Regions from separate parts of the Homo sapiens genome. Here regions 2 and 3 are each linked to region 1. The links come from fine-mapping of genetic effects on gene expression. A gene starts in region 1. Each other region holds a variant in brackets. All regions are shown on one strand. Distances are between the middles of the regions.

Region 1 (11,197 bases):
AAGGTTATCTATTGATCAGTTGATGAAAATGTTGTGACCAGAGCCTCACAAGAACCTAACCCCTAGGAGCAAACAAAGTTTCAGTATTCACTAATTCAGTGTATACAACAACTTTACAGAATATAGCTACCACAAATAACAAGAATTGACTGTCTCTATGTGTATATATATGTTTGTATATGTGTATATATTTGTATATGTATATGTTGAATTCCATTTAGGTAAACTCCAAGCCATATATATATATATTTTAATAATCAAACTATTGAAAACCAAGGTTAAGGAAATCTTGAAGATAATCGGAGGAAAAAAGATATAATGCAGAGAAACAAAAACAAAAATTTTTCATCAGAAACTATGTAAGCTTGAAGATAGTGGAGGGATTTTTTTTTTTTTTTTTTTTTGGAGACAGAGTCTTATTCTGTTGCCGAGGCTGGAGTGCAGTGGCACTATCTCAGCTCACTGCAACCTCCACCTCCCAGGTTTAAGCTGTTCTCCTGCCTCAGCCTCCCAAGTAGCTGGGATTACAGGTGTGTACCACCACGCCTGGCTAATTTTTGTATTTTTAGTAGAGATGAGGTTTTGCCTTGTTGGCCAGGCTAGTCTCAAACTCCTGACCCCAGGTGATCCATCCACCTCGGCCTCCCAGAGTGTTGGGATTACAGGTGTGAGCCACCATGCCTGGCCAATGGAATGATATTTGTAAAGTACTACTAGAAAAAAAAATTATAAACCCAGAATTCTATATCCTTTGAAAATTATCTTTCGAAAACAAAGGTGAAATACTTTCTCAGAGAAATAAAAGCTAAGAGAATCAACCAATATTAGACAGGCACTTTAAGAACTTACAGTAAATTCTTCAGTCGATGGGAATATAATACCAGACTGAAACTTGGACCTACATAAAGAAATAAAAGCTCCAGAAATGCCAAGGGGCAGTGTAGGGGAAAGGAAACAGAGAGGGAAAGAGAAGGTAAATATATTTTTCCCAAAACACCCTATACCTTACATCAGACTTGATGAAAGACTGAATACTTTCCCCCTAAGCTCAGGAACAGGACAAGAGTATCCTCTCACTACTCTCCCATTCATTGTAGTAGAGGTCCTAGCCAATGCAACATGGCAAGAAAAATAGAAGACACACAGATTATCAATGAAAACATTAAACTGCAGTCACTTGCAGTGACATGACTGTCTACTTAAAAAAAATTTACCCAAAATTACTATTAAATAGATCTACTAAGTGAAGTTAGCTAGATTACAGGATATGATCAATAAACAAAAATTAATAGTATTTTTCCCTATTTCACATCATATATAAAAATTAACTCAAAATGGATTAAAAGCTAAAGCTCTAAAATTCTAAGAAAAAAACAAAGGTATATATCTTCTTGATATTGGAGAAAGCAATGGTTTCTTGGATATGGCACAAAAAGTACAAGCAACAACAATACAAAATAATAAATTGGACTACATCAAAATGAAAAAGTTTTGTTCTTCAAAAGACACCACCAAGAAAGTAAAAAGACAACCCACAAATTGAGAGAAAATATTTGCAAATCATGTATCAATCCAAACATATGACACAAAAAAGTCTAAAAATAAACAATTCATAAATTATGCGCTTTTCTGAATAGCATGATGAAATCTCCCACTGTCCTGTTCCATCCTGCCTTAATCATAAATCATCCCTTTGTCCAGAACATCCATGCTGTATACACCACCTGCCCTCAGTAGCCATACTGATTATCAGATCAACTGTTGTGATATCTCAGTGCTATGTTCAAGTAACCCTTATTTTACTTTATAATGCCCCCAAAGTGCAAGAGTAGTAATGCTGATGTATTGTTATAATTGTTCTCCTTTATTATTATTAGTTATTGTTGTTAATCTCTTATTATGCCTAATTTATAAACTTGATCATAGGTAAGTATGTATGAGACAAAACAGTATATACAGGGTTTGGTTTATAAACTTTATCATAAGTAAGTATGTATGAGAAAAAGCACAATATATATAGGGTTCAGTACTATCCAGGGTTTCAGGCTTCCACTGGGGTCTTGGAACATTTCCCTTCTGGATAAGGGAGGACTACTGTATACAAAGAAATCTTACGACTCAATTATAAAAAGATAAATAATACAATTTTAAAATGGGCAAAGGACCTGCATAGACATTTCTCCAAAGAAGATATACAAATGGCCAATAAGCACATGAAAAGATACTCCACACCTTTAGCCATCAGGGAAATGCAAACCAAAGCCACAATGAGAATCAATTCATACCCATTAGGATGGTTATAATCAAAAGAACAGAGAACAGCAAGCGTTGGTGAGGATTTGGACAAATTAGACTCCTCATACACTACTAATGAGAATGTTAATTTGGAAAACAGTCCAGCAGTTCCTCAAAAAGTTAAACAGAGTTACCATATGAGTCAGTAATTCCACCCCTAGAAACATACTCAAGGGAAATGAAAACACAGGTTCACACAAAACTTGCACATGAATGTGCAAAGCAGCATTATTCGTAACAGGCAAAAAGTACAAAATATCCAAATGTCCATCAATAAAATAAATGTGATACATCCTTACAGTGGAATATTATTCATCAGTAACAGAGTATTGATATATGCTACAACGCAGATGAACCATGAAAACATTATCCTAAGTGAAAGAAGTCATGCACAAAAGACCACAAATTATATGATTCAATTTATATAAAATCCCCAGAATGGGCCAGTCTACAGACACAGAAAGTAGGTCAGTGGTTGCCAAAGGATGAGGGAAATGGGGGAAATGGAATATGACTGCTAGTGGATATAGGGTTTCTTTTTGAGGTAAAAAAGTTCATTGTAATTGTGGCTGCATTAACTGTGGATATACTAAAAGCCACAGAATTGTGCATTTTAAGTCAGTACATTTTATGGTATGAGTATCTCAATAAAGCTATTATTTAAAAAAGAAAAAGACTCCAAATCTCTATCTCTAATCCTGACCTATCTCCTAAAGCCCGGATCACTATAATGCAATATATTACAGGCATCTCAGATTTTGCATGTTGAAAACTTAAAAATTCACTGACTTCACAGATGCTTACCTCTGATAACTGGAAACACTGTCATTCAATTACACCAAAAGAAACCTTGGAGTCACTCTATTCTCTTACTCTCCTTTATACTGATCACTATAAAGGCTATCAGGTTTACCTCTTTGCTGCTCTTAAACATGACTTCTCCATGCCCCAGCTTTATTTTAGGCCCTTAGAATTTCCCACCAAAATTACTGCAGAAATCTCCTAAATGATCTTACTGCCTCCAGTCTTGCATTTCTTCAGCAGATCCTCCACTGCTGCCAGAGTTTTTCTAAGACGCGAATATGGTCACATCAATCTCCTACTCAAAAATCCAAATTCCTGCTGGGCGCGGTGACTCACACCTGTAATCCCAGCACTTTGGGAGGCCAAGGCGGGTGGATCACGAGGTCAGGAGCTCGAGACCATCCTGGCTAACATGGTGAAACCCGGTCTCTACTAAAAATACAAAAAATTAGCTGGGCATGGTGGTGGGTGCCTGTAGTCCCAGCTACTCAGGAGGCTGAGGCAGGAGAATGGCGTGAACCCAGGATGTGGAGCTTACAGTGAGCCGAGATCATGCCACTGCACTCCAGCCTGGGCGACAGAGTGAGATTCTGTCTAAAAAAAAAAAAAATCCAAACTCCTTCGTAATCTTACAAAACTTCAGGACAGACAGCTGAATCTCTCTGGCTGCCTCTTATTTCATCACTCCTACAAGTGTCCCATCTTTAGCCATCTTTATGGCACGCTACTTACTTCTGTGTATATTCTTGCTTTTCCCTGCAATGCTCCTTGTCAATTTTTTACTTGGCTAACTACTGTCTACTAGTCTTGAAACTGTAGACTTCTGTGACTCTCCTCACAACCAGGCAATATGCAGCTCCTCTGTTTTCTCACAGCGTGTTACGCAAGTCTCACTTATCACACTATCACGCTGTGAGTCTTCCTTATAAGATGGAGAATTATCTGAGGGCTTTCATCTCCATATCCATAGCATATGGTAAGTGCTCAAAACTAAGGAATGACTGAGTGGTCTTGTAAATGGTAGAACTTTCATCTGCCTTAAAATGATCTAACAACTAGCATTTAATAACTCACCCTGTATTGACATTAAGTCATATATATGAAAATTCTAGGCTACCCCAAATAGGTTGTTATATTTAAAAGCTATTCAACACTTACACGTAAGACTTAATGAGAGCTTAGTGATACACAGTATTAAACTTTAGACTAGACAACATGTTAGCGTCAAAGTGGGATTTTACTTACCTTTACAACATCAGCTTTATGCTTTTCTAAAACTTGAAGAGTTTGGGCAGTAATGGAATCAATCACTACCACAAGTGAATGACATCCATAAGCAATTAAACCTTGCCAGCCCCTAGCAAAACAGTAATGTTAAAGTTTAAGTACAGAACAAAGCAGGACGACTTCTTTCTTGCCAAGCCTAAATAAATGATAAGTCTAATTCATATGTACCACCATTAATAAAATCATTTAAACCCAAAGGCCAGTATTTATCATTATCCCACTTAAATAAAAGATCTGGCTAAGCTTAAAATGCTTGTTGAAATTCACTTTTCATTCGGATAAAAAAAGTTCTAAAAGATATGAAAATAGAGACCCGAGGACATAAAAAGGAACTTGTGCCCTCTGACTGTTCTTGTAGGCATACGTCTTTCGCTTATCCGATTTCTAATCCTTAGTATCCACAATGTGCCTGGGGATACTGCGACTAATCCTAGTCCTTCCAACTAAATAAAACGACAAACACTGCACAAGACGTTTCAGTCCTCCTAACAACATCCCACAGCCACAGAATTTTGCTTTACATTTGTCTAATGAGTAGTTTTCAGAGCTGCAGTAGTAATTTATAGTGAAAGGAGAGAGTAATAAAGACGACCTGTTGAAGGCAGGAATGTTCTACACAGGAGGAGCCCGAAAAGAGGTGAAAAGGACAGGTGAAAGAACAGGCGCCTAGCACAGGGTCTGGCACATTGTTGAAAGACAACAGGAATACAAGACAACGAAAAAGAAAAGACAGGATGGGAAAGAGAAAGTGCACAGGGAATTAATGGTGGAGAGAGAGAAGCCTGGAAGCTGGAGGAGAGGAAAAGAGAGAGGAATGGAACGGCAAAAGGGCGAGGTGCAGAGAAAACAGCAGAGAAATACGCGAGAAAGAGGGGAAATGTATTTGCATGGGGGAATTTCCCACACGGGGCTATTATCACTTTTGTAACAACAAAAATCCACCAACTGAAAGCAAGCTCATTGCGTGAGGGCGGCTCCCTGCCTTAGCGAGGCCAAACTAACCAGGGGGTGAAACCTCTTGTCCTTCCCCCTTCCCCCTCACACATTCCTGGCCGATCCTGGCGACCTGGAAGCTCGGCGTCCTCACCAGTCCACCGCCGCCTTGTTGTGGGCGTTGAGGGCCCCCGTGAGGGTGCGCGCCGACACCTTGAAGTTCACTGTGTAGGGCAACATCCCGGCGGCCAGCCCAGGACCTGGGCGCTGACCCGCAACCAGGAAGCGGCGGACACTGTGCTTCCGTTCCAAACAGAGTCCGGGTGGCCCCCTCGGCGCCGCTGTCAGGTTCCTCTAGATTCAAGTTCTACAGGCTCCGGGTTCCACCGCTCCCGGATTCCATCGCCCCCAGGTTCCGTTGCCTTCAGTTTCCTAGGATCCTAGGTTCCGCACTCTCCAGAGTTCCGCCGCTTAGGCGGTTGTGCTAATCTGCGTCAGCTGGGGCTGTATTTGGAAGAAGAGGCGCTGCCTCCAGTCAAGTCTGTTTTTTTCAGGTGGGGACTGTAGGCCTTTGTGCCCTGCTGGAAATCGTGAAAAGCAAGAGAGAAGAGTCCCAGTTATTCTTGCTGCCTTTGATAAGTGAATTTAGGGCAACTACTAGTGCCAGTAGGCATGGGGGATCTACCGATGAAGAAGACACAAAGTCTCCGCTCTCGTGGAGTTTACAGAGAATAATGAATGAGATTAATTAAGAAATGAATGAGATTAATTGAATGAAATTGCCAGACTGAATGAAGTGAATGGCCTGAATATAAACAATTTCCAAATACAGATAACACTGCATATCTGGTGTTTGCAATACTCCCTTCGCACTTGAGGAAGAAGCACTATGTCTGGGGCCAAGTGTGACCCTTTGTCTGTTGCTGGGTACCTTTCATTTCGCACTTTCTCCTCTGCTGCTCTCCAGGTCAGACCCAGTCCTTCCCTCCTTTGTGTTCAGTGTTGGGTTTATACGCTTTAACTATAGCACTTAATGCAATGATTTCTTTTCAGCAATGATATTTGCAGATGTGTGTTTCTCTCCCCAATACATTGTTAGTTTCATGCGCGTCCGTGTGAAGAGACCACCAAACAGGCTTTATGTGAGCAATAAAGCTGTTTATTTCACATGGGTGCAGGTGGGCTAAGTCCGAAAAGAGTCAGCGAAGGGAGATAGGGGTGGGGCTGTTTTATAGGATTTGGGAAGGTAATGGAAAATTAGTCAAAGGGGGTTGTTCTCTGGTGGGCAGGGGTGGATCTCACAAAGTACATTCTCAAGGGTGGGGAGAATTACAAAGAACCTTCTTAAGGGTGGGGGAGATTACAAAGTACATTGATCAGTTAGGGTGGGGCAGGAACAAATCACAGTGGTTGAATGTCATCAGTTAAGGCTGTTTGTACTTCTTTTGTGGATCTTCAGTTACTTTAGGCCATCTGGATGTATACATGCAAGTCACGGGATGCGATGGCCTGGCCTGGGCTCAGAGGCGTGACATTCCTGCCTTCTTATATTAATAAGACAAAACAAAATAGTGTTGAAGTGTTGAGGCGGCGAAAATTTTTGGGGGGTGGTATGGAGAGAGAATGGGTGATGTTTCTCAGGGCTGCTTCAAGTGGGATTAGGGGTGGCGTGGGAACCTACAGTGGGAGAGATTAAGCTGAAGGGAGGTCTTGTGGTAAGGGGTGATATTGTGGGGATGTAAGAAGAAACATTTGTCGTATAGAATGATTGGTGACGGCCTGGATACGGTTTTGGATGAATTGAGAAACTAAATGGAATAAGAGAAGGAGAAAAACAGGTATAAAAGGTCTAAGAATTGGGAGGACATAGGACATCTGATTAGAGAGTGCCTAAGGAGATTCAGCATAGTCCTGCCAGCAAAGATTATTTATTTACTTCAAGAGTTTAGAGTGGCAGTTTGGGGATAGCACCAGGAGATATCAGCTGTGATGGCTTGGAGAAACAGTGTAAACCGGCAGTGTAAACAAGAGCAGGGCATGTATGAGTAGTTGAGAATGGTGAATAGGAGTATGACTACAAAAGATAGGGATGACAAGTTTTTTGGGGCACAGTCTAAGTTGGTCTGGTGTCAAATGAGACTGGGGCCTAATAAAAAGGAGCGTCTATACAGGAGCTTAAATGGGATGTACCTTGTAGCATTCTGAGGACAGGCCTGAATTCTGAGAAGCGAAAGTGGTAAAAGTATTGTCCAGTCCTTTTTAAGTTGGTGGCTGAGCTTGGTGAGCTGTCTTTTTAAAAGACCTTTAGTCCGTTCTACTTTTCTTGAAGACGGAGGCCTGTAAGGGATATAAAGGTTTCACTGACACCTACTAAGAGCCTGAAAAACTGCTTGGCTGATTTGACTAATAAAGGCTGGTCTGTTATCAGACTGTATAGAGGTGGAAGGCTAAACTGAGGAATTATGTCTGACAGAAGGAAAGAAATGACTGTGGTGGCCTTCTCAGACGCTGTAGGAAAGGCCTTTACTTATTCAGTGGAAGTGTCTATTTGGACTAAGAGGTATTTTAGTTTCCTGACTCGGGCATGTTGAGTAAAGCTAATTTGCCAGTCCTGGGTGGGGGCAAATCCTCGAGCTTGATGTGTAGGGAAGGGAGGGGGCCTGAATAATCCTTGAGGAGTAGTAGAATAGCAGATGGAACACTGAGAAGTTATTTCCTTGAGGACAGATTTCCACGATGGAAAGGAAATGAGAGGTTCTGAGAGGCGGGCTAGTGGCTTGTACTATAGCATAGCCTGCCTTTGCTGGTATGTGGCGATTAGGCCTGGTGGAACTGCCATCAATAAATCAAGCGTGATCAGGGTGAGGAACAGTAAAGAAGGAAATATGGGGAAATGGGGTGAATATCAGGTAGATCAGAGAGATACAGTCATGGGGGTCAGGTGCGGTATCAGGAATAATGTGGGAGGCCAGATTGAAGTCCGGGCCAGGAACAATGGTAATTGTGGGACTTAAAGAGTGAGTACAGCTGAAGGAGCCGGGGAGCAGAAAGTATATGTGTCAGGTATGAGGAAGAAAATAGATTTTGGAAGTTATGAGAAATGTAGAGAGTGAGTTGAGCATAGTTTGTGATTTTTAGGGCCTCTAAAAGTATTAAAGCAGCGGCAGCCGCTGCACGCAGACATGAGGGCTAGGCTAAAACAGTAAGGTCAAGTTGTTTGGACAGAAAGGCTACAGGGTGCGGTCCTGGCTGTTGTGTAAGAATTCTGACCGCACTAACCATGCCTAGGAAGGAAAGGAGTTGTTGTTTTGTAAGGGATTGAGGTTTGGGAGATTAATCGGACACGATCAGCAGGGAAAGCACGTGTGTTTTTATGAGAATTATGCCGAGATAGGTAACAGATGAGGATGAAATTTGGGCTTGACTGAAGTAATGGGGGCTGTCTGTGAAGCCTTGTGGCAGTACAGCCCAGGTAATTTGCTGAGCCTAATGGGTGTCAGGGTCAGTCTAAGTGAAAGCAAAGAGAGGCTGGGATGACGGGTGCAAAGGAATAGTAAAGAAAGCATGTTTGAGATCTAGAACAGAATAACGGGTAGTAGAGGGAGGTATTGAGGATAGGAGAGTATATGGGTTTGGCACCATGGGGTGGATAGGCAAAACAATTTGGTTGATAAGGCGCAGATCCTGAACTAACCTGTAAGTCTTGTCTGGTTTTAGGACAGGTAAAATGGGGGAATGGTAAGGAGAGTTTATAGGCTTTGAAAGACCATGCTGTAGCAGGCGAGTGATAACAGGCTTTAATCCTTTTAAAGCGTGCTGTGCGATGGGATCTTGACATTGAGCGGGGTAAGGGTGATTAGGTTTTAATGAGATGGAAAGGGGTGCATGATCGGTCGCCAAGGAGGGAGTAGAGGTATCTTATACTTGTGGGTTAAGGTGGGGGGATATAAGAGGAGGACGCAAAGGAGGCTTTGGATTGGGAAGAAGGGCGGCAATGAGATGTAGCTGTAGTCCAGGAATAGTCAGGGAAGCAGATAATTTAGTTAAAGTGTCTCAGCCTAATAAGGGAACTGGGCAGGTGGGGATAACTAAAAAGGAGTGCTTAAAGGAGTATTGTCTAAGTTGGCACCAGAGTTGGGGAGTTTTAAGAGGTTTAGAAGCCTGGCTGTCAATACCCCCAACAGTTATGGAGGCAAGGGAAACAGGCCCTTGAATAGAAGGTAATGTGGAGTGGGTAGCCTCCATATTGATTAAGAAGGGGACGGACTTACCTTCCACTGTGAGAGTTACCCAAACCTCGGCGTCCGTGATGGTCTACGGGGCTTCCGAGGCGATCGGGCAGCATCAGTCTTCAGCCGCTAAGCCGAGAAGGAGTCAGTCAGAGAGCCTTGGGCCAGAGTTCCAGGGGCTCTGGGAGTGGCTGCCAGGTGAGTTGAACAGTCCAATTTCCAGTGGGGTCCCGCACAGATGGGACACGGCTTAGGAGGAATCCTGGGCTGCAGGCATTCCTTGGCCTGGTGGTCAGATTTCTGGCACTTGTAGCAAGCTCCTGGGGGAGGAGGTTCTGGAGGAATGCCTGGCCACTGCAGTTCAGGCGTTTGGAAGTTCTGTGTGCTGGAGATGCGGCTGGGGTTTGTCTCACAGTGGAGGCAAGGAATTGCAACTTTTTTCTATTATTGTACACCTTGAAGCCGAGGTTAATTAAATCCTGTTGTGGGGTTTGAGGGCCGGAATTTAATTTTTGGAGTTTTATTTAATGTCGGGAGCAGATTGGGTAATAAAATGTATATTGAGAATAAGATGGCCTTTTGACCTTTTAGGGTCTAGGGCTGTAAAGCGTCTCAGGGTTGCTGCTGAACGAGCCATGAACTGGGCTGGGTTTTTATATTTGATGAAAAAGCCTAAACGCTGTCTGATTTGGGATAAAGAAAAAGGAGCATTAACCTTGACTATGCCTTTAGCTCCAGCCACGTTTTTAAGAATAAATTGCTGGGCAGGTGGGGGAGGGCTAGTCACAGAATGAAACTGTAAGCCGGACCAGGTGTGAGGAGGGGAGGCGATAAAAAGATTACAGGGTGGAGGAGTGGAGGCTGAGGAAGAATTGGGACCTAGCTTGGGCTGGCGAGGAGGGGAGAGGTCAGATGGGTCTGTAGAAAAGGAGGATTAGAAAGACTCAGCGACGCTTGGGGTTGGGACTGAGGGGACAGGCTGGAGGGAAAGAAGGAAGATTTGGGACGAGTTGCACTGGGCACAGAGACTAGGAAGGGACTGATGTGTAAAAGAATGCCTGGACGTCAGGCACCTCAGACCATTTGCCCATTTTACGACAAGAATTATTTAGATCTTGTAGGATGGAAAAATTGAAAGTGCCATTTTCCGGCTATTTGGAACTACTGTCGAGTTTGTATTGGGGTCAAGCGGCATTGTAGAAGAAAATAAAGCATTTAGGTTTTAGGTCAGGTGTGAGTTGAAGAGGTTTTAAGTTTTTGAGAACACAGGCTAAGGGACAAGAAGGAGGAATGGAAGGTGGAAGCTTACCCATAGTGAAGGAGGCAAGCCCAGAAAAAAGAGTAGAGACACGGAGAAGGGGTGGGGAGTTCTTGCCCTCCAGAAAAGCAGAGAAGGGGTTGGGGCACAGAAATAAGAGGTCAGGGTGCGGAAATAAGGGATTGGGGCGCAGAGATAAGAGGTTGGGGTGCAGAAATAAGCAATTGGGGGGTTCTTGCCCCCTAGGAAAGCGGGACTTGCCGCTAAGGGTGAAGGAGAAGGGGTTGAGGGGTACTTGCCCCTGCCCCAGGAAAGCGGGACTTGCCGCTAAGGGTGAAGGACCAAGGCAGGCGTCCCTGCATTGTCTGACACCCTTGAAACGTGGGTATGT
Region 2 (5,000 bases), 280 kb after region 1:
TCCATAAAAGGCCATTTGGCCCGTAATATTCTTCATGGGGAAATGCCCTAACTCACATAGGTGGGAAACAATTCTGCGGGAACATATTCCCAGTTCCAATGGGGGGCTGTGCCTCTGTTTTTGTTGGCCCAGTGACTCTGTCCATCCTTCCATCTCATGATGCGGCTTCTTATCATCCAGAATTTCATCCAAGTCATTGATAAAAACAGAACAAGGGCAGGTTCAGACCTGTGACCCTCTTCTGACCTCCCCCATCAGGAGGGCCTCAGACCTTAGTAGCACTTGATGCTTGCTGCATCCACCTGTCCAAACCATGTCAGCATCTCTTTCCCTATACCCTTCATCCTCCAGCCCAAAGCTCCTGCTGGGGTCACAGGACACCCAGAGCATGAGCTCCAGGAGGATACGGGGTAGGGATGAGACCAGGAAGGAACAGGAGAAGCTGTGTAGTGCTAGAAGGAGCACAAGGTCTCCAGAGAAGATGAGGAAGGAGGGGCTCTCAGCTAGGAGTTCCCCTCAACCCTGTCCCCATCCATTGCCTCATTACCACTGCAACAAACCCCCGGAAAAGGTAGGAAGAGGGCAGTCCTGCAAGGCAGCTGGCTGCAAAGACAGAGAGAGGAAGGAGGTGAACAATGCCCAGCAACAGTCGGAAAACAAGAAAGGGAGAGGAGGTTTGGGTCACAGACCTATCATGGAAGCCCATTCATTCAAAGAAGCTGGATTCAGGCACACTTTCTTTCCTTTGTTTGGTTAAAATTGACACATATGGTGGAGCTCTTTACCAGTGTTTCTTAGACTTCATCAGCAATGACAGGCTTGCTTATTATCCAGGAAGATTCTAGGCCACTGCTCCAGATGCACCCCTAGAGAGTCCAATTTCTAGCTCAGGGCAGCTTGATCAAGGTGATCCAAGGATTGCCCTTGGGAAACCCTTCCCTAGACCCCATGCTTCCTGGAGGCCACACCTCCCATGGACATCACCTCCGTCTCAGCTCTCTGTGTGCTCTGGCAGGTGGTGGTTGTCTTTCAGACAGACTGTGAGCTGCAGTTTGTCTGCAGAAGGACATGGCATGGTTTAGTTATATTTCAGGAACAAGCCCCTCCCTTGTTTTGTGTTATTTTGATTTTTAACAAATACCCCAGGACTGATATATGTATATATATAGGCAAACCTCACCCCAGGCTTGCAGCTGCTGCTTGGAGCATTACTGGAATGAATCCCTGGCTAGATATACCTTTCGGAAGAGCATCCATGGTGACAAATACGTCCTTGTAGGCTGGATTTGATAAGCAAAGGAAGCCAAAAACCACTTGGCACCAACTCTGAGGACTGAGGCAAGTGATCCAGCAGGAAAATCACATTTGGGTCTCAGGCCAAGGGTGACACTAAACCAAAGGGCCTGACATTCTGGCAGGACTCAAGCAGTCTCCTGGAGCATGAAGGAGGAAGAAGAGCTCCAATTCTTTCCCCAGGAAGGCCAGACCTCACTTGAACCAGCATATTTGCTTCAAAATTTTATCCGCTCTGTCATTTCAGCCTCCTCTGGTTTTGGACAATGGGCACTTAGCTCCCCACAATTGGTGCATTTCTACACCCATCCCTGGAGGAGAGGGGCAACCACAGTGAGGACTAGTCAGGCCCTGGGCAGGGACTCACCTTGCCAGTGATGCTTGTAGTCGCACATGCGGGACAGGGCAATCATCATGGCGCAGTACAAGGGCAGGATGGCAGCACAGAGCCGCCAGCTCTTTCCCCGCCCACTCTCGGTGAAGCAGTGCAGCTTGCCCGCCAAGTAGAACGTCGTGAAGCCAAGGCCCGAAAAGGCAACTGCCAAACAGAAACAGCAGGTGTTACTCTAGCAGGTGGTGAGTGGCAGGGACTCAGTGCGTGCTGGGCATTCCGTCTGCC[G/A]TCTTGCACACCCCCAAGGCCAAGGCCATGTTGGCACCAGGCACTATCTAGGCAATCTGTGCTCCTGCTAGCACCATGCTGCTATGAAACTTTCAACCATAAGAATAATCTTCCAGGGTTATATGTGATCAAAACCTATTTTATTTCATCCATTCATTCAATAGTTACTTCAGGAGTCTCCACTCTGTGCTAGACAGGCACTGCACTAGATGTGGGGAATAAAAAGATGCATCAGATACTATCTCTGGAGTCAAGAGGCTCATGGTCTAGTTGAAGGACATACCATGCTAAGAGATAATTTTAATATAATGTGATACATTCTATAAGAAACAAGTACATACAGAGCAAAGGACTGTGAGAACTGCTTAGATCTGAAGGGCATGGGAAAGTAAAGGGGCTAGGATCAGCCCCAGGTTTTTGGCTTGGGAGACTGAGTGTACAATGGTGGCATTCAGTAAGATGGGACCAGCAAATGCTACAAAAGAGTGAGTTTGATGGAGAAGTCAGCGATGACAAATACCTTGTTTTCTGTCCGAAATAATGGTTATTGTTTTTTCTGAATTGCAAAGACAACTCATGGCTGTGCTAAATCCATTGTCGAAAGTGTAGAGGTCTGAGTGTAGCATGTATAAGCCCCAAGCTTTACATCCAAGCAGGTATAAAACATAGTTGGGAGCTCAGTGAGATTTAAGTTGGGAAGCGCTTACAACAATGGTCCTCAACCCTGGCTATACAGAGTCACCTCTAATACCTGGGAAGCTTTAAAAAATACTGATACCCAGGTTCCATTGCCAGCCATTCTGTTTGTAGTGGTCTGGAGGGAGCTGAGAGAGAGAGAGAGAGAGAGAGAGAGAGAGAGAGAGAGAGAGAGAGAGAGAGAGTGTGTGTGTGTGTGTGTGTGTGTGTGTGTGTGTGTGTGTACTCCCCAGATGATTCTAATGGTGGCCACAACTAAGCTTAGAGGCTTTTATTGAAGGCAGGTGTTACAGCTCCCCATCCCTCTGGACACCAGTCTAATCCAAACTTTCTTCTTGATTAGAAAGTACTTCTGAGGGGATGGAGCTCCTAGGTAACCAGCCCACACAGTGACTTGGCAAAACGAGTATTATAAATACTCTCAATGCCAATACACCAGCAACTTTAAGAGACTGCCCAAAGCCCTGAGCCACGGTCTGGGCATCATGCAGGCATTTGTGACAAATGCAGATCCTCAGGTCCAACCCACACCTGCTGAGTTAGAATCTGTATTTCACAACATCCACCAGCGATCTGTGCACACACTGCACTTGGAGAAGCCTTGGCCTAAAATACATTCATTGTCTTTATAAGAGACCTTGGAAAGTCCATCTTAAGAAAATAATATAAAATGTAAGGGAAATCTAGAAGATTTTCTGCTCAAAGTTATTGATAAATATTGAAAAACTGAAAATGATCAGTACAGAAGAATAGATAACCAAGCTGTGACATTTCCTTGTAATGGACTATGATGCAACCATGAAAACCACATGATTATGTAACAATATAGACAATACTTAGGATGCATGCTAAGTGAAACAAGTAGGACCCTAAACTGTAAGTTCAAGATAATCATTACTATAGTACCAAACAGTGAACAACCTGCAGCTTTTCCAAATTATCTCTGATAAGAATGTGCCTTCTTAAAAGCGATCTCGGTTACAAACACAAGATTATACCAAAGTAGAACTTTTTTCAGCAACCAAATTAAACAAAGTTACAGTGGTTTAAAAAAAAATTTTAATGGAATATTAAACCAGGTTTATCGTAGGTATAAAGATGCAGCAAAAGAAAGTAAATCTAAATGTGAGTGGTGTGTGCATTGAAACACTTCTGCGTAATGATTAGCACCCTCCCCCTCCTCACAGTGTGTAAAATGCTTGTTTTCTTTGAGAAGAGAGTAGCAAGTTCTATGGCTAGAGTCAGAAAACATGTCTTGGACAGCCTTCCTGGTTTTTTGTTGTTGTTTTTTCTCCTCCCCGTTGAACTTGAACCTGAGCCTTGATGATTTAGAGTCCTAGGATTTCAGAGTTAGGTCTGATGAATAACATCAGAGCCGTGCCAATAGATATTAAGTATTCTGCTTAAAGTAAAAATATGTGAGAAGAAACTGCATGGCCCAGCCCTGCTCTAGATACTGTGGTGGGAGGTTATTAAGTGGTTTACATGATGTTCCAAAGTGGCCCTATCTGGCCACCAACGTAGCAAGCACAACGACTTCTTAAATTCTATCCTCATCCCCTTTGCTCTGTTCCTTCTATTCATTTACATTCTTCCTTGAGGTATTCCAGTGGGAGAGGAGGCTGGAGAGTTGGATCCCATTGGTATTGATCCCATCCTGAGCTCCTTCAGGAGGAATAATGGACTTTATTCAAATCAGGTGGCTTTGCAAGTTTATCCACCTAATTACACTAAATGCAGGGAAACACAAAAAAAACTGCCCTGGGGCTTTGTATGGTTTTGGATGAAAGTCTCCAAGATCTGAATCAGGGGAGAGGCAGCCTTGGGTGTTGCCAAACTGGCATCTCTTAGGGAAACAAACAAACAAACAAATCAATGAACATAGGGCAGCTGTTGAGCAGGAATTTTTATGTGTCCCCATAAAAAATGACTTGGAGACTTTAAGACATATAAGTCATCAGCCCAAGCAACCAATACTGCCTACAGCACCTCCGGGCACATCCAGGGCATGGAGAAGGGGAAGGGCTGTGGAAACCCTCCACTGTTGGGCAAATGGTTCGAGGTGAGATCCTCAGCATCCGCCTGATTTCTCTGTCTCAGGAACTTGTATTTGGCCAGCATTGGCACCCCAGGCTCTAACTCATTCTTTGAAGGGTAGGTAAAATGTATTCTCTCCCACACGGCGGGAGCCAGGACCACCACTGTGACCCCTCCAAAATGTTGAAGCCTCTGCCTCTTTGAAAAAGAGGATGAATTCCAAGTCATCTTTATAGGCAATGTGCAAGGGCCTAGATCCTGTGGGCACCCAGCAGCAGCCAGTCTTCCTGCCCACACGCTACTGGGCCTTTGAATATTTTTTTTAAACTTCACTGTGTGCCCTTACTTTCCTAAG
Region 3 (11,197 bases), 38 kb before region 1:
GTGATTTTGTTCAGTGTGATTCAATGAACGGTGAAAAAGAGAGCTAAGGAACACTACTGGCGTTTGGGGCAGGACAATTCTTCATTGCGCCAGATCGTTCCAGGTTGTTTAGCATCCCCAGACCTCCCCACATCGGCAAGTCATTGTGAGACATTTCTGAATGCCCCAAGATTACCGAAAATGACTGTGGAAAGCTGTGGCAGATGAAGAGGAAAGGTTTGTGCAGAAATCTGATTTCAGAAAGCTTCTTTCTATATATGCTTACTTAGGAAAAATGTGCTTAGCAGTGGCCTTTAACACTGGGGAGGGGAAAACTGGCTAGCCATATGTAGAAAGCTGAAACTGGATCCCTTCCTTACACCTTATACAAAAATTCATTCAAGATGGATTAAAGACTTACATGTTAGACCTAAAACCATAAAAACCCTAGAAGAAAACCTAGGCAATACCATTCAGGACATAGGCATGGGCAAGGACTTCATGTCTAAAACACCAAAAGCAATGGCAACAAAAGCCAAAATTGACAAATGGGATCTAATTAAACTAAAGAGCTTCTGCACAGCAAAAGAAACTACCATCAGAGTGAACAGGCAACCTACAGAATGGGAGAAAAATTTTGCAACCTACTCATCTGACGAAGGGCTAATATCCAGAATCTACAATGAACTCAAACAAATTTACAAGAAAAAAACAAACAACCCCATCAAAAAGTGGGCGAAGGATATGAACAGACACTTCTCAAAAGAAGACATTTATGCAGCCAAAAAACACATGAAAAAATGCTCATCATCACTGGCCATCAGAGAAATGCAACTCAAAACCACAGTGAGATACCATCTCACACCAGTTAGAATGGCAATCATTAAAAAGTCAGGAAACAACAGGTGCTGGAGAGGATGTGGAGAAATAGGAACACTTTTACACTGTTGGTGGGACTGTAAACTAGTTCAACCATTGTGGAAGTCAGTGTGGCGATTCCTCAGGGATCTAGAACTAGAAATACCATTTGACCCAGCCATCCCATTACTGGGTATATACCCAAAGGATTATAAATCATGCTACTATAAAGACACATGCACATGTATGTTTATTACGGCACTATTCACAATAGCAAAGACTTGGAACCAACCTAAATGTCCAACAATCATAGACTGGATTAAGAAAATGTGGCACATATACACCATGGAATACTATGCAGCCATAAAGAATGATGAGTTCATGTCATTTGTAGGGACATGGATGAAGCTGGAAATCATCATTCTCAGCAAACTATCAAAAGGACAAAAAACCAAACACCGCATGTTCTCACTCACAGATGGGAATTGAACAATGAGAACACATGGACACAGGAAGGGGAACATCACACACCTGGGACTGTTGTGGGGTGGAGGGAGGGGGGAGGGATAGCATTAGGAGATATACCTAATGCTAAATGATGAGTTAATGGGTGCAGCACACCAACATGGCACATGTATACATATGTAACAAACCTGCACGTTGTGCACATGTACCCTAAAACTTAAAGTATAATAATAATAAAATTAAAAAAAAAAAACACTGGGGAGGAAATTAGGTTGAACAGTCCCTGATATCAAGTCAATACTATTTAAAGGGTGTGGAAACTGCATGATACCAGAATGCTATTAAACAGTCTCATATTCTTGCATTCCTTTTAGATGCTGCTAAAAAGACTATTAAGATTTATTTTGATGGCTCTTTGTGTCCCTGACATATTAGGCAGCCGATAAGAAAGGTTCTCCAACTCAAAAACAGGAATTCTAATCTTCTAATTTGTCTGACTGCCCCCTCTTTATTGGAGGAAGAAGTGGCCTATCTAAGCTGCTCTAAGAAAATGTACAGATGTGAATCAATATTTTACGTTCTCTACTTGTTTTCAAGGAGAATTGAAGAAAACATAGGAAACACCAATGTTAGGACCTATTTTATTTTTATCCCATGTCAGTAAGCCCCAAATATACTTCTAATTCCTCAGAATAGAAATATACTACCTCAAACTTTTTTTCCTCAAGACCAAATCGGCCATGAATCTGGAGGTGAACACACAGATGTCTTTTTCCTCACTCCACATTTACACTACCATAGTTTTCATTCTTTAACATTTATTAAGGGTTGTTCTGAATTTGAAGTTCAATTTGTGGAATGAATACACAATTGCATGACCTTTCCCAATTGCTATTTAGTTTTCTCTTTCTGGCTGAGGCTGTAACATTAGAGATTGAAAAGAATATAAAAAAAAATCAGAAAAATTTTAAAAGAAACATGTGATCTAAAATCTGGCCACAGGCCAGATGTTCAAGTATGGTATTGAACATGGGTTAATACAATGGACTCCATTTCTGTAGTCAGTTTAATTTAAGAACAAGCTACACCTTGACTTTGGAGCTTTTTAGATTCAAATTTTATATTAAAAGTGAAGGAAAAGCTCTTCAAACATTTAGATAGCAGTTCCACACTTCTTTATCTAGAATTAGTAACCAATTTTTTCAAAAACCACCCTTGAAGTTCCTTCAATGTCCTCAATACCTTTAGGTTTAAAATGAATACCAATGCTTGCCCTTTCCTAGGAGGCCATCCTGGTGCTTCCCCAGAGCTGGCAAACGACACAAGGACAGACATGGGAATGTAGGTCTTGAATTCTGGCTTCACCTGATGGCAGTCAGTTACATAGTAAGAAGTGGTGGTGCCCAAATGCAGTGGGCAGGGGTGGGCAGTGACAAAAACCAAAGCATACCTAACTAAGTTAAAGGCAGCCCTGCTAACATTAGCAGCAACTCAGTAGTGCCTCAAGCATGAACACAAAGTGAAAAACCAGGTTTTTAAAACCTTACTGTGTCTGAAGTGCCAAATATTGACTCTACAAAGGTTCAGAAAAGTCTCATGAAATTTTCTACATATCAGCCTAGAGTGTGCACCAAAGTTTTGCTGGGAGAATACTCAGGCAAGAAGTTCCCTCCTCCACTCCAAGTAGGATCAAGTATCTTCCAAGGATGAACACTGTATTGCATCAGCCAAAAGCTGCCTTTTAAACTGATAAATGGATGCATTCACAATTGTCCCATTCTTTTTTTTTTTAGAAGTCATATATGGAGTATATTCTACTAAAATGCTTTTTATTCTGGTAAAAAGCAATGTCAAAACAACCATACAAAACAGAGCAAGATACTGCAATCTGCTAATTTGCTTGACTGGTCATTTTACTAGTCACAGATTGGCATCAAAATTCATAATACTCAGAACACTTTCTAAAGTGACTTTTCAATGATATATGGTTGCAAAAGACATAAGGCCATTATTAAAAAGCCAGCAGCCTTATCACTAGATTTATGTCCTCTGATGAGTTTGCCTAAATTCTGAGTAAGCCATTTTTATAAACATAAACATCTTTTATCTTGTTAACAAACCAAAGAAAAGAGTCAAAAGGGGCACTTAAAAAACCTGAATTGAGAATGATTGACATCTATAGTTACAAAGATTGCAGCATCTCAGCAGTAAAAACACTCAAGCTTCAAGTTAATATATTTTCTTAAACTCAGATTCTAAGAAAATAAGACTGAAATGAAACAGAAGCAGCAGCTCTCTCCCCAAAATACAAGAGCTTGTGGCAAAGTAAAGACAGGTTTCAAAGCCCCCTATCATTAGGATTCCATACCGGTTAACTCTTGTTCATCCATTCTAAAGCACGCAGACTTCATAGACATCTCTAGGACTCTGATGCACCCATCATCTGAGGCCAAGATCACTTTATCTGACGTACACCAGTCCACATCCAATATACGAAAGGTCACATTTCTGCCACTTCTTAAACTGCTCACCATCTGAACCTTCAAGAGTGAATTTGGGCATCACTTCCAGACAGAAAAGGAAGATCTTTATTATTCTAGATTAAATGGTCAAGGAAGACAGTCTGTGGCAAAGGCCCAGTTCAAGTTTAGAACTGAACAGCCTCTGGCAATCTATCTTCCACAAATAGGCAGCATTTTAAAGGTCTCAGAGACAGTGATAATATTAAAAAATAAATAAATCGGCTGGGCGCGGTGGCTGACGCCTATAATCCCAGGACTTTAGGAGGCTGAGGCGGGCAGATCACCTCAGGTCAGGAGTTTGAGACCAGCCTGCCCAACATGGCGAAACCCTGTCTCTACTAAAAATACAAAACATTAGCCGGGCGTGGTGGCACATGCCTATAATCCCAGCTACTAGGGAGGCTGAGGCAGGAGAGTCACTTGAACCCAGGAGGTGGAGGCTGCAATAAGTCGAGATCGCGCCATTGCACTCCAGCCTGGGCGACAAGAGTGAAACTCCATATCAAAATAAAAAATAAAAATAAATAAATAAATAAATAAATAAATCTTGAGTTGTTACCTTTAGAACACAAATACTGTAAAGTAAAGAAAATAATTTGTTATGGGAAACTTGACGAACTCATTAAGTACTTTTCATTTCTAAATCAGAAAGAAGTTTTTTAACAAAGCACAGTTCCTATGGCTAACAATTTATTTACGTTTTATCCTCATGGAGAGGGCCTACCTCTTTAGTATCCCACACTTCAGCTCCATCATTGTACATTGCTATTAATTTTTGATTTCCTTTACCAGGAGCAAAACGAATCTTCCTCACCCAACTTCGGTGTGTGGGTATTCCTCTGAAGACAAAGAAACAAAAACATCAATACAATGTAGAGTGAGATCTGGTCACCAGAAGCTATGTCTAACATCTCTCACTATTTCCATTTCTAACAGGTCTGATGATGGGAGAACCCTTTACTTGCTGGGACTGGGGGCCACATCTGACAGAAAGGGCCTGCCCTTTAAGGTCAGCTAAGACTTCTGCAGGGGCCACTTGCAGATAACTATCTCCTAAGAATGCTTGGCTCAAGGCCCATCCTCCCAAGTTTAGGTGAAGGGACCCAAGGGTCCAAGCTACACCTCCACGAGTTTACTGATCCTTCTTGCCAAGTCACAAGCCTCTAATGGAACCATATCAAGATGTCATTTTTTGGCCGGGTGTGCTGGCTCCTGCCTGTAATCCCAGCACTTTGGGAGGCCGAGGTGGGCGGATCACGAGGTCAGGAGATCGAGACCATCCTGGCTAACATGGTGAAATCCCGTCTCTACTAAAAAAATACAAAAAAATTAGCCGGGCGTGGTGGTGGGTGCCTGTAGTCCCAGCTACTCGGGTGGCTGAGGCAGGAGAATGGCATGAACCCGGGAGTCAGAGCTTGCAGTGAGCCGAGATTGCACCACTGCACTCCAGCCTGGGCGACAGAGCAAGACACCATCTCAACAAAACAAAACAAAA[A/CAAAACAAAAA]GATTTCATTTCTTTTTTTTAATGAAATAACAAGATTTCATTCTTGGCTTATACCTGGATACTCTGCCTTTCAAGTCCCAGAAATTTAAATTTCCATCCATATCTCCAAGCACTAATGTATCACCTTTCCAAGCGATGCAGGTAATACTACCCATACTTCCCTAGAAAACAACAGCAACAAACAAATATAAATTTCACTATGCTGTATAAGACATTATAATAAATATTTTAATAAAACTTAATTTAAAGGGCTGTGCTTTAGTATGCTTTTAGTCATCAAATCCTAAAACAGACTTTAGACACTAACAAAGAGCTACATTGCCTATCAATTTCAACTATGAAGAAATAGGAGATTTCAACTTCATAGACATTAAGTAGTTACTGGAACTAGATTTAAAGAGAGGGGATGTCTTTTGAGGAACAAATACCTCAAAAAAAAAAGGGGGAAATTAAAGTAAGAAAAACAGAGAAGTAAAGGGAAGGTTTTCCAGAGAGCCAACTCAAACTTATCTCTCACTGCAAAAGGATAACTAAATCCATTCCAAGGGAAACTTAAAGCTCTTTTATAACTAATTGTGCCGTGATTTTTCTATTGAAAAAAGGATCCAGAGCTTCACTGACACGTTTTGGAACATTGTGGAATCATGAAGGTGAAGAGATGCTGTTTACTAAAGGCATATGCAGTTTAAATTCACAGAAAGCTTTGCTCAGAAGTTACATATAGAAGCACAACATAAGAATGAAATGCTGCTGTAGTCAATCTAACTTGGAGGAAGAAAGGAACTTGCAGTTCTAATAGATGCTCAGAGGTGGTATCATGGAGGGCTCAGCAGCCTGGGCTCTGCAGTCACACTGCCTGGGCTTGAATCCCAGCTTGAAACTGGTATGTGATTTGAGGCATGTTTACTTAACCTTTCTGTCTTGGATTTATTGTCCATAAAGTAGGGTAAGTTCATGAAACTTGAGTTGTTGCTAGTATTAATAAATTTATAAAGGCAAAGGCCTTAAAGCAATGCCTGCCATGCAGTAAATAGTCAATACATGTTAGCTATTAAATAATATTACTGCTCAATTACTTCTCTATTTATTAAAAGAAATTTTATTTTTGCATTTATTGTACAACATAAAAATTCAAATGGTATCCATGGTAAAAAGTAAGAAAACTCTAGTGGTTTGAATAATTGACCATTAGTGGACTAGCACACACACTGAATACCGTAAAAACTCTGGTAATAGTCAAGAAACAAAACAAAAACTGGATTTAAAAATCAATATTATAATAAAGTCCATTAATAAAAAAAAATATTAAAGAAATGAAATTCTGTATATAATATGAAGCAACATTTTAAGATATCTACTTTCCTAGCCATAAAATAGAATGTTTAATTAAGAAGTTGCCTTTGAAGAGACTTCTGAAACCAGGTCATAATAGACTCTGCAACTTCCTTCTTGCTTTATCAGATCACTTACTCTAGGGGAGGCCAGTTGTCATGTCGTGAGGACACTCAAGCAGCCTTATGGAAAGATCGACATGAAGAACTAAGGTCCCTCGTCAACAGCCAGCATTAATGTGCAATAGCCTGTGAGGCAGCCAACTTGGAAATAGATCCTTCTGTCCCATTACACTTCAAAAGACTGTAGCCACAGCCAACATCTAGATTGTAACTTTATGAGACCCCAAAGCCACCTATAAAATTATGGGGGTTGGCATTCTACTAGAGCATTCCATTTTTAGATAGCAATTTAAAATAAATATACCTATTTTAAAAAATCCCCTCATGCCTTCATTTAACCATTATAATAGCCTGCATTAATTAACATAAACATTTTCATGATCCATCTATTAAAAACTATCTATGAGATGCATGCTGACACAAATGATTAATGGCAAAACTTTAGTTACAGATTCCACAAGGCCATAAGAATATATGTAAGTTAGTAAATGTTAATAATACTATTACACTTACAACCTGATTACTATTATCCAAAAATAATACTAGATTGTAAGTCAAATCCTTCAGGGTAATGCCTGAAATGGAAAGAAGACAGATACTGAAGTCAGACAGGCCTGAGTTTAAAACACTGCTCTGCCATATGAGTAAGCTGGATAACTTTGGGAAAGTTACTTATTCTCCCACAGTTTTGTTATGGGTAAAATGGAGATAACTCCTCATGGATTATTACAGGGATAAAAATGAGTAGCACACAGTAAACATTTAATCAAAATAGTTACAGCGTTATTCTCTAGCAGTATGGAACAAGTTTAATCGATAATATCTCCTTAAATAAAGTTTATTTACATTAGGCTTTTCTGAAGTTTCCAACTTAACTATGCCTTCACTGGATATGGAACCAACAAAACAAAATCTTCTTGATGAAGATTTAATCAAGGTTGTACTCACATCTGGTGGAATCCGAGCACTGTCTTTTACTGAGTTTCCTTCAACAGTGAGATGATACACTTGGCCATCAATATCGGTAAATACAAAATGTTCCCGGGCAGAGATGTTCTGACTAAGTTCAGATTTACTTTCTGCCTCCTGCAGCAAGCTTTGGGATAGTGAAACATATGATAAAGATGTTTTTTTTTCCCCTAGAGTGATACTCATAATTAATTAACTTGCCCAAAGTACAGACGCATTAAGAGGAGGTCCAAAACTATTTTTTTAAAAGTCTGAAACTAATATTTGCCCAGCTAATTATGGGTAAACATGAATCACTCCTTAACAGCCACAACATCAGAGGAAGTTTACCCTGCACAGAGAGAAATGGTGATCTAAACTTAACACAAGAAAAATAAAATTCATAGAGATTTTGGCTATAGAACTGTGCTCAACAGAAGGGAGGCTGTACAGTGACCCAACATTATCTCTGAAGCCTTTTATCTGTAAGATTGGTATGGATGGGGATGATACACAAATTTAGGATTCCCAACACATTTTCTTTGGTGTGTATAAATGATAATATGATCTATCTGTATGTCTATGCTATGTTCATTTGAATTTCAGAAGCTGAAGTGTATGGAGTAGAAGGGCACTCGGAATGAGCACATTTACTACTAGATGCTGATGGGTGAATATTACTGCATATGTTATTAGTTATAACAAACAGTATAGTACAATACTAAAAATGATAAAATTATCTTTTTAGTAATCTGGGTATGTACTGAAAGATGAAACTAAGTATGTTCAAAAGCAGAGTCCAACTTGCTACCATAGACACCTTCCGATGATACTTGTCAACTTCCCAGACATGATGCTAATGGCACAAATGACAGTGTCAAGAAACACTGTACTGTACCTGATCACAGATGATTCAACAATACTCAGCTCTGTGTCTGAGACTACGGTCTGGCGGGCCATGGCCTCTCGAGTTGCAAGTTGCTTCTTTCTCAGGCTCTTCAAGTTGTGAGATGGTGACCACTCCTGTAAAGCAAATGCAGACAAACCTAGAAGTGCTAGGTTTCCTTCTGTCAAAGAATCGTCCAGAAGAGCTGGGCACACACACCACTGCCCAGTATCATTTATTATTACTACACATGAATCCACATTTGTTCTTTAGATTTTACCTACTTAGAGAAAGGCTAAATGAATGCATTTTAATTGGAGCTTTTATGGCAAACTTCCAAAAGGTCTGACCTTTTGATGTTTTTATAAAATACTTACAAAATGAAAATAATGAATTCAATGATAGTATTGCCTATTCCTCGTCTCCTCCCCCATCTCTTATGTGCACACGATAAGACAATCACAGTTCTCGAACCAGGGTCCTTTATCATCCATAGATTCCTCCAAAATCACTTGTTTTATTTATATATTCTTTTATATTCCACCTATTGTAAAGCCTTTTAGTCCAATATCCTCGCATATGTATAAGTTCTTAACATGTAGTTATTATCTAATTTACCTAAATAGTATTGTGTTTATATGTGTGTGTGTGTGTGTGTGTGTGTATATATATATATATACTTCATCCTGTTTCTTACTCTTTCCACTGTATTTAAGTCCTCTTCCTCCTGTTTCTGCATGCTACGTAATACTCCATGGGTGCATCAGCCAATTGTTAATCTGTCTCCTCTCTCAGTAAAAACACACAGATGGTCTCCAAACTCACATCATGACAAAACACACCAGTCAATATCCTTGCAAAAGTTCATTTACGACCAAGAGCTCAGCGGACACAGAAGATGTCTGTGTTTGCCCAAGTGCTGCCAGCGTGCTTTACAGAATGGCTGCATTGGTCTACATTCCTACCAGCAATGCACAAGGATTCCCATACCCTATGTTCCACCCGTACTTAACACTATATGGCTGTCCAGTTTTTGTTAGTCTAAACGGTAGATCCATATCATGGTTTGAACATCTCTGAAAACTGATGAGTTTGAACATTCCTTTATATGGCTTGTTGGCCTTTTAGGTTTCTCTGCCTCTCATTAGCTCTTCACAGACTTTGTTCATTTTCTCACTAGGGTTCCCGCTTTTTTTCACTGTTGACTTGCAGGAGTTTCTAGTTAAATTTAGACACTGGAAAATTTGTTTTCCCAAAATGTCTTCTGTATTTAACTTTGACATCTTCATCAAACAAAAAGCATTAATCTTGATTAATTAAATGCATTGTTTCTTTTTTTTTTTTGCCTTTTGGTTTGAGCTTCTGATGTCTCCTCCTGCCTCTAGGTCACAGCAATATTTTGTATTTTGTTATATTCAATTTTATAGCTTTACATTTTTACATTTAGGTCTTTAGTCCTGTGACACTCACTTCTCTATACGGTATTAAGTAGAGATCAAGTATTTTTCTCCATAAAGTGAGACAGTTTTCCCAACACCGTCTACTACACAGTCTGTCCATCCTCTTTGATTTGTGCTACTTTACTGTATATTAAGTCCCCAAATATTCATGGGTCTGTTCCTGAGCTCTTTATTAGGTTGACTCACTTTCTATTCTTGTGCCAATACAATACTGATTTTATTTCCATGGTTTTGTAAGATGTACTAATATCAGGTAGGAAGGGCCAACCCCACCCACACCTCCCACATTTACTCCTCTTTATTCAAGGATGACTTAGCTATTTAGGACCTTTATTCTTTCATAAACATTTTTGAATATGTTTACCATATTCCTCAAAATATCCAAATGAAACTTGAATTGGAATTGCACTAATATGATATTAGGTTGATTTATCCAAGAAAATAAGAATTATCTCCATTTATTTAGATCATCTTCTCTGAACACACATTTTTAACCAAAAAAATGACATTGGCAGTAATGATTTTGATTCAAGCTTAAGCAAAACATTCACCACATACATATATACCTAAATAAGCTATTAAATTCTTAAATTGTAACTTACCAAAGCAGTTATTGTAGGGAAGTTTTTGGACATCTCTCTAAGAAGGGTACAAGTCCTAACATCCCATAGCTCCAGGGGTTTATCTCTGAATACGACTGCCAAATACTGCCTAAAATAAACAAAATTACTAAATAAGCCCCTTTTTGCAAAAATTTCACCATGAATTAGAGCAAATAAAAAGTTCAGTAAATTGAAAAACTCAGCTGACGCATTCTAAATATAGACAATTTAAACTACCATTTAGCACCATGATTAACAGTCATAAGAAGGTAAAGCTCTAAGTGACCTGTAAGAGAACATACAGTCTCACACAATTAGGCAAGGAGTCCAACTTGGAAGAAAGAGTGGCATAGATTCAAACCCTGATGCCACAACTTATGTTAACCCTCCTGAGGCTCAACTTCTCACACATGACAGGAGAATCTCATCATGTACCTCAATTAATTGATATACAGATTATGGTAAACATTCAATGAAAAAGTATGTAAAGTTTCTATCATTCTACTACAGTTGGTATTCAACAAATGC

Which allele goes with the higher level. Positions count from the first base shown, and alleles are read on the strand shown. Sizes are in standard deviations (SD) of each study's normalised expression.
With allele G in place of A in region 2, the expression in cerebellum of the gene that starts at base 5,801 in region 1 is lower (large effect, 0.85 SD a copy in GTEx).
With allele A in place of CAAAACAAAAA in region 3, the expression in caudate of the gene that starts at base 5,801 in region 1 is higher (moderate effect, 0.62 SD a copy in GTEx).

The links. PIP is the estimated chance that this variant, and not a neighbour inherited with it, causes the effect.
Region 2: its variant is fine-mapped to the expression of WDR11-DT in cerebellum (GTEx, PIP 0.91).
Region 3: its variant is fine-mapped to the expression of WDR11-DT in caudate (GTEx, PIP above 0.99). The same link has a PIP of 0.9 or more in hippocampus, nucleus accumbens and prefrontal cortex.

The regions. Positions count from the first base shown.
Region 1 is chr10:120,845,783-120,856,979 of GRCh38, reverse strand. It overlaps WDR11-DT (WDR11 divergent transcript), which reads left to right and starts at 5,801. Exons shown (of 3, transcript NR_033850.1): 1 at 5,801-6,286. It overlaps WDR11 (WD repeat domain 11), which reads right to left and starts at 5,618. Exons shown (of 29, transcript NM_018117.12): 1 at 5,474-5,618; 2 at 4,345-4,456. The coding sequence starts at 5,559. RefSeq lists enhancers at 5,134-5,193, 4,888-5,431, 5,204-5,673, 5,834-5,953, 5,432-5,976.
Region 2 is chr10:120,571,962-120,576,961 of GRCh38, reverse strand. It overlaps PLPP4 (phospholipid phosphatase 4), which reads right to left. Exons shown (of 7, transcript NM_001030059.3): 6 at 1,661-1,831. Among named protein-coding and RNA genes, the nearest start is that of LINC01561, 23 kb to the left of the region's middle. RefSeq lists an enhancer at 1,336-1,835. The variant G/A (reference allele first, on the strand shown) is at 1,913.
Region 3 is chr10:120,883,361-120,894,557 of GRCh38, reverse strand. WDR11 (WD repeat domain 11) reads right to left here. Exons shown (of 29, transcript NM_018117.12): 14 at 10,670-10,778; 15 at 8,620-8,744; 16 at 7,722-7,869; 17 at 5,374-5,480; 18 at 4,549-4,663; 19 at 3,671-3,842. Among named protein-coding and RNA genes, the nearest start is that of WDR11, 38 kb to the right of the region's middle. The variant A/CAAAACAAAAA (reference allele first, on the strand shown) is at 5,320.